Linked DNA regions of Homo sapiens. The protein of the gene in region 1 purifies or fractionates together with the protein of each later gene. This does not show direct contact. Each region holds a gene or a part of one and is shown on either strand. Other genes may lie near its edges.

Evidence for each region. The genes of interacting proteins can lie anywhere in the genome.
Region 2: the proteins of TM7SF3 (region 1) and TRAP1 fractionate together in Homo sapiens (co-fractionation; one large-scale study listed by BioGRID). This does not show direct contact.

Annotation. Positions count from the first base shown.
Region 1 is NC_000012.12:26,993,885-26,997,384, forward strand, and holds part of TM7SF3 (transmembrane 7 superfamily member 3 precursor), read right to left. Parts: intron 2,979-3,500; coding exon 2,858-2,978; intron 1,525-2,857; coding exon 1,353-1,524; intron 1-1,352. UniProt on the Homo sapiens protein: Involved in the inhibition of cytokine-induced death of pancreatic beta cells. Involved in the promotion of insulin secretion from pancreatic beta cells.
Region 2 is NC_000016.10:3,662,025-3,665,524, forward strand, and holds part of TRAP1 (heat shock protein 75 kDa, mitochondrial isoform 1 precursor), read right to left. Parts: intron 3,438-3,500; exon of another isoform or gene 2,436-3,437; coding exon 2,250-2,435; exon of another isoform or gene 1,539-2,249; coding exon 1,400-1,538; exon of another isoform or gene 944-1,399; coding exon 858-943; exon of another isoform or gene 622-857; intron 109-621; coding exon 1-108.

The DNA.
Region 1 (3,500 bases):
CAGTGGTGGCAACTGAGGAAGGTTTCATTTGTATTTATTCAAGGCTGACAACCACAGTCTTTTTCTTGATTCTTGAACTGCCCCAAATTTGGCAGTGCAAGCCCCTTCAAACAGGCTCCTGAATCTCTTTGACATACCCTCATTAGTCTTTGAGGGTTTCCCCACATTCTGGTACAAAATATTCTTTTAACTAAAAGTTTAAAAGTAACCTACAAAAAGCCTATTATACAAGTTCTTATATTCTTCATAAAAATAATAATAGTATTAAAATGTCATATCTAATAAAGCAACTAATAAACTTTACTAACAGAGCTTCTTATTTTGTGAATAAGCACAATGACGCTGTCTAGAAAAACTCCACCCATCAACCATTAGACTGAAGGATGACCTCATATATTATATTGCTGTTAGGCACTTTTCAAGACATAAAGATAAAATCCTGCCCTCCACAAAAATGATCTATTGCAGTGAGTCTCAAAATTTAATATGCATAAAAATCACCTGAGGGCTGGAGTGCAACAGCACCATCTGGGCTCATTGCAACCTCCACCTCCTGGGTTCAAACAATTCTCCTGCCTCAGCCTCCCAAGTAGCTGGTATTACAGGCATCTACCAACATGCCTGGCTAATTTTTGTATTTTTAGTAGAGACACGGTTTCACCATGTTGGACAGGCTGGTCTCAAACTCCTGACCTCAGGTGATCCACCCGCCTCGGCCTCCCAAAGTGCTGGGATTACAGGCGTGAGCCACTGCACCCAGTCAGAATCACCTGAGGGATATAAAATGCAAATTCTGATTCAGTAGTTCCAGGGTGGAGTTTAAGAATTACAATTCTCACAAACTCCCCAGTGATGCCAATGCCACTGGTCCATGGTCCACACCTGGGGAGCAAGGGTTTACATGGATTCAAAAGCTCAGAGAAGAATTTTACTCCAAGTTAGACTTTGAGTTTGGGTTCAAATATGAATGCCAATGTGTATATCCTTAAGCAGTTTCTCATTATTTTTTTCTCAAAACAATGTAATCTTCATACTTGCCAAAAATGTTTACCCAGTAGTCGTGGGAGTACACAGAAAATTACCACCTCCTTCCATTCACATTTCAGATTACCAAGTCACAGATGTGGCTGCAACTAAAACGTAACATAATTTACATGCATCTCCTCAAAGGCCAACATCATTTTGAGATATCACCAGCAAAGACTCCCAAGATGATAACAAAAGAGAATAAAGTGAGTGTCCCCCAAAAAGGAGAAAAGAGTAAAGAAATAAGATCCTGGTAGCTTCTCCCCTTCTCAACTCTGACAAAGGTGTCACAATCCAGCCACACAAATCATGGGACTCAGATTTACCTTGAGAGCACTGGCCTTCACCTGGGGCACACTGACCATCCTCTGCAGATGCTTCAGCAACATCTCCTCAGTGAGGTCATTCTCAGGCAGAAAATACTGATAGACATCATACTGCAACCTCCACCTGGAGTCCTGGTCTGTCCCAGCGTCACATGGTGGGGGATCTACGCCTCTAAAGTCAACCAACAAAATGAAACATCAGTCTCTTGTGGTGCAAGTCCCATCTATAAAAAGGAACCAAGAGCCCTAATTTCAAACACTTGCAACAATAATTACAATTTAACAGTTCACCTTTTGCAGTGGCAACAATTGGTATTCTGAAGAAAAGTAATGCACTGTTATGGACTGAATGTTTGTGTCTCCCCAAAATTAATATGCTGAGACCCTCACTCCCAGTGTGATGATATTAGGAGGTGGGACCTTTGGAAGGTAATTAGGTCATGAAGGTGAAGCCCTAATGAATCGAATTACTGCCCTCATAAAGGAGATCCCAGAGAGCCCTCTAGCCTTCTTTCTGTCATGTGTGGACACAATGACAACCCAGCAGTCTGTAACCTGGACGAGAACCTTCACCAGAACTCAACTGTGCTGGCATCCTGATCGTGGACTTCTACCCTCTAGAACCATGAGAAAGAAGTTTATAAGCCACCCAGTCTGTGCTACTTTGTTACAGCACCACAAACTAAGACAAACACCAACAGGCAAAGGTGATTACATAACTGGATTCTGATATCAGTCAGGCCTAGAGTAAAATACTACAGCTCTGGGGAGGCAAAAAAATTTTTTTTAAAAAAAAGCTGGGTGCAGTGGCTTATGCCTGTAATCCCAGCACTTTGGGAGGCTGAAGCAGGAGGATTGCTTGAGCTAAGAAGTTCAAGACCAGCCAGGGCAACATAGAAAGACCTCATCTTTGATTTAAAAAAAAAAAAAAGAAGAAGAATATAGCAGATTTGTCATTTGTTAGCAAGTAGGGTAACCTCCATAACCCCTAGGGAAACTTTCTGTAAAATAACAGCAATTGCCCTTCTTCATAAAATTGTTAGGATTAAATGGCAAAGAACATAACAACACTCAGCACCACGGACAATGCACAGGAAGCATTCAAGTGTTCTCAAATGTTAGCTATCATTACTATTAAAGCAGAAACTGAGGCACAGCTTTAATTAAAACAATGAATCTTTATAAAAATAAAAGGATGTTTCAGGGCTACTGAGTGCTATCTATATTTAAAGTGCTTTATAAAAACCAGGATGTATTTTCAAGCTCATAATAGACTCACATCTGGCTCTTCAAATAAAAAGAGTTCACAAGAATGAAGTGGGAAAATATTAACTGTAAATGACAGTCCAAATATTAATAGTGAAGTTTAAATTACATCAATTCCCCCCAAAAATTAACTCAATTTTACTACAGAGAATTAGGGACTTGAGAGAGCTGGTCAAATCTACACAACTGTCGTCATGTATATTCTAAAAGCATTTCTCAGACATGGGAGACAGACGTACCTCGCATAGCCTAGGTTTGCTGGGGCAAACTTGATAGTCGTTTCAAAGAAATTATACTCCAAGTAAATGTTGGGATCAATATCTAAATCGAACTCCAAATTACAGCCTCCAGGGACAGGATCTGGATAAGAAATAGGGAAGTTACTAAACAAACAATTCCTACATATCCAAATCATACTCAGAAAAACAGAACTCTATCTACTCTTACAAAAACTTCCCAAATAGAAGTTAAATATAAACGTAGAGCTTCTAGTCGTATACTATTTCATGAACTGAGGTTAAAGAGGGTAGAGTTAACTGAGGTTCAGGGCCCTAGAGCAGGGCAGAGCCAAAATTTTCTGTAAAAGGCCTAATAGTATTTTAGGCTTTGTCAGTCTGATGGTCTCTGCAGTAACTACCCACCCCAGTCCTTGTGGCAGGAAAGCAGCCACAGGCAATACGTACAGGAAGAGGCATAGCTGTGTTTCAGTAAAACTTTATGTACAAAAACAGGCAGCAAGCTGGATCTGGCTCATGGTCTGTAGTTTGCCAACCTTTCCTCTAGAGTTAAAAAGATCGGCTATTGGTTGACTACTTCTGGCCAGGTTTGGAATGCAGATACACAGTGTGTATATATGTTTCAATATCATGTTGGAATCTTCCT
Region 2 (3,500 bases), on another chromosome or scaffold:
GCGCTCCTCCTGGGTCTTGGCCAGCTGCTGCATGCGCAGGAAGTGGCGGGCAGCCCCCATCTCCAGCACGGTGACCATGGCAGGGTGGGTGTCCAGTCGGAGGGTCACCTGTGAGCAAAGCCCGGGGTTGAGGGTGATAGAGGTTCCCAATGTGAGAGGGCTGGCAGGATCTTACCAGGGGTGAAGGTCACCCAGACCACGAGGTAGCAGGCGGGGTCTCAAGGACTCCCCTGGACCAGCGCTGCTCCCTCCCCATTACCCACTAACTTGTGGGCCCTGAGCTGATGCCCCACGCAAAGATACTGTGCCCGAGGGGCTCCACCACCCTGGTGCCCCGCTGCTGCCTCCAGGAGCTGCCCGAATCCATCGTCCTCTGCTCCATGCCAGCCCACCCTGCATGAGGCCCCTTCCTCCAAGTGACCATGCATGGGACGCTCATTTCTCACTCTGAGCTAGACAGGTTGGTGGGGGGAGTCTTAGCTCTCTGAAGCCCACCCAAAACCCCCGACTAAGCACCCAAGTGAGCATGTGAGCTCCTGAGGGCTGGGGTAGCATGTCCCTTGTTTGGAACCCCCACGTCCTCAGCCATTGCAGCTCCCACTCAGGATGCTGGTTTTTCAGTTCTCAGTTCACACCTGCTCTGGAGCAGGGCTGGGAGAAAGACACGGCCTTCCTGCCTCAGCGGCACTCCCGAGCAACACGTGCCGAGCAGGGACCCACAGGGTCTCCACCTGACACCAAGGGCTTCTGCTGCTGCTGGAAGGACACCCAACGGGCCAGGTACTGGGAGCCACCAGCTGGCCAGCCTGTTAGGGACACTGCGGCCAAGTGGTGGTCCATCCCCGGGAAAGCCTCACCTTCACGTTGGTGACACGCGACCCCAGCACATTTCTCATCCAGGCCATGAGCTCCTCCGTCTCCTTCTCTGATAGGCACTCGGCGGCTGCGGAAGAGCAGGCGACAGGGAGCTCAGGCCTGCATCCCAACTCCCCGGCTTCCATGGGGGCCACGCAGCATGCTTCCAGCTCCCACCTCCTCTCCCACCAGGATGGAGACACAAGCTAGCAAGATGCTTTTCATCTAAAAGTAAAACCTCAAAGGATGCTTCAGGTTGCCTGAGGCCCATACAACTTGGTTAGGGCTTTAAAAAAATACACAGCCTCTCAAGAAGCTGGGCCAGCTCCAGAAGCCACCGTGGCAGGAGCACTGGACAGACCCCTGATATCTAAACCAGGAGGCACCTTCCTCCAGTCACCAGGGTGCTCCCACAAGGCTCTTCTCGGGGGTGGCTGAGCCCAGGTCAACTGACGAAAACCCAAAGGAAGCCCTCGCTGCGGGGCAGGAGAGGCGTGCGGGGAGTGGAAACCAGCCCCACGCCTAGAGAGCAGGGGATGCCGACCTGGGGACCTGTCCTCAAACTTCTCCTCCTTGTAGTGATCCACGACTATGTCCGTCTCCACAGAGATCAGCTTCTTCTTGTCAAACTCACGAAGGTGCAGCAGGGTGAGCTCATCAAACTGCTCAAAGCAGAAGAGAACCTGCAGGTGGCCAAGAGCAGCTCCATCAGACCCCGGGGGCCTCCAGCCACCACAGAAGAAAGGATGAGGGCGGCAGGAGGGCTGGGGGAGCCAAGCGGGCCACACTGGGGAACACCGGGGCAGTTGGGGTTCCTAGGCCTGCATGACAGTTACTACGACACCTGGGTCTAAGGAAGGCTCTGACTGCCTTCAAGGCAGAAGCACTCCACGCATAAAGAAATCCACATGTGGCTGAGTGCAGTGGCTCACGCCTGTAATCCCAGCACTTTGGGAGGCCAAAGCAGGCAGATCATGAGGTCAGGAGTTCGAGACCAACATGGTGAAATGCCGTCTCTATTAAAAATACAAAAATTTGCTGGGTGTGGTGGTGTGCACCTGTAGTCCCAGCTACTCAGGAGGCTGAGGCAGGAGAATGACCTGAACCCAGGAGGCGGAAGTTGCAGTGAGCCGAGATCGCACCACTGCACTCTAGCCTGGGCGAGAGAGCAAGACTCCATCTCAAAAAAACAAAAAACAAACAAAAAAAACCACATGTGACCTCCAAGTGGGAAACAGCCGTCACAGTCGGTCCGGCCTCTGTGCCCGTGACCCTGACCCACTGTGCAGCCCTGCCCGGAGTCTTGGGCAGGTTCACCCAGCACAGAGCTGAGAAGGTCAAGACCCTCCCCAGGTTGCAGCCCCCGGAGCCCGCCCCACCCACCGCTCACCCACCTCTGTGTCTTTCTTCTTCATGGCCTCATAGTAGGGTGAGTGCTCTGCCAGGTGACGGTTGGGGGCGCACAGGTAGTAGATGTTGCGGGTGCCGGCCCGCATGCGGCTGGCGTATTCTGAGAGGCTGGTTAGCTGCCCGGAGGGCAGCGCCGAGGACTCGTAGCGCAGCAGCTTTGCTATGTCCTCCTAGAAGGGACGGGGCAGGTCACCACTTATTCCAGGCCCATGGGCTCAATGTTGCCCAACTAACTGGGCGCAAACCCTCCGATGCCCATGGCCTCCTGGCACTCCAGGCTGGCCCTGACCCGAGGGACGGTAGTGGACTCGGGGGTTGTCCGAGAGCAGGCCTTGCTCTGCCCATCAGGCCCCTTTTGGGAGCTCTGGGGGCTTAGGAAGCACCTCCTGCCCCAGGTGGCCCAGGGGCTCTCCAGGGAGCTACGCGCACCACGCCCTGGGAGGGGACCCCACCCAACAGCAGAGCCCGGCCTGGACCCAGCGTCTTCCCTCTGCCCTCAGTGACAGAGTCAGTCTCTGGTGGGCACACGGACACGGGTGAAGTCCACGGTTCCCGGCCCTCCTCACAGCTGGCTATGGCAGAGACTGGCTTTGCCCAGTGGGTTTCAGTGGGATTTGGAGAAGGGCCCTTAGGGGAGGGGTTTGCCCTCCTCCCCATCAGCTGAACGCAGCTGTGACCTCTAGAGCTCATGGGAGCTGCAGCTGGAAGGACGCAGGGGGAAAACAGAAAGAGGGAAAAGCAAGGAGCTGGACACCCAACCAGCAGGGCCCAGGCCACCCCTGCACACATGGTGGGTCTGCATTGATAAGACATGTCACACGTGCACACCTACAAAGACCTAGAAATGTCTCTGACTCTTACCTGTGTGCTGTTAACTCAAATGAAGATAAAGGAGAATGAAGAGGCCTGTGTCAGAAGCTGCCGAAGTCGGCAAACAACCAGAACACGGCCTCCTTGGGACCCCACACACGTGGTCACCCTCCTCCTGCTGCTGGGGAGAAGGGACACCAGCACGGGATGGGCTCCTGGGATGAAATGTTCTGGGGTTACAGTGGAGGCAGCCACACCACACTGTGAATGCACTAAATGCCACTGAATTTTACGTGTTAAAAGGTGAATTCTGTGAATCTGATGCTATGTAAGTTGTATCTCAATAAAAAATGGACAAAAAATGTTTATGGAACAAATGTTTCGTTTTTCAGCCATCCACTATTGGATTAACTGAACGACTGGCC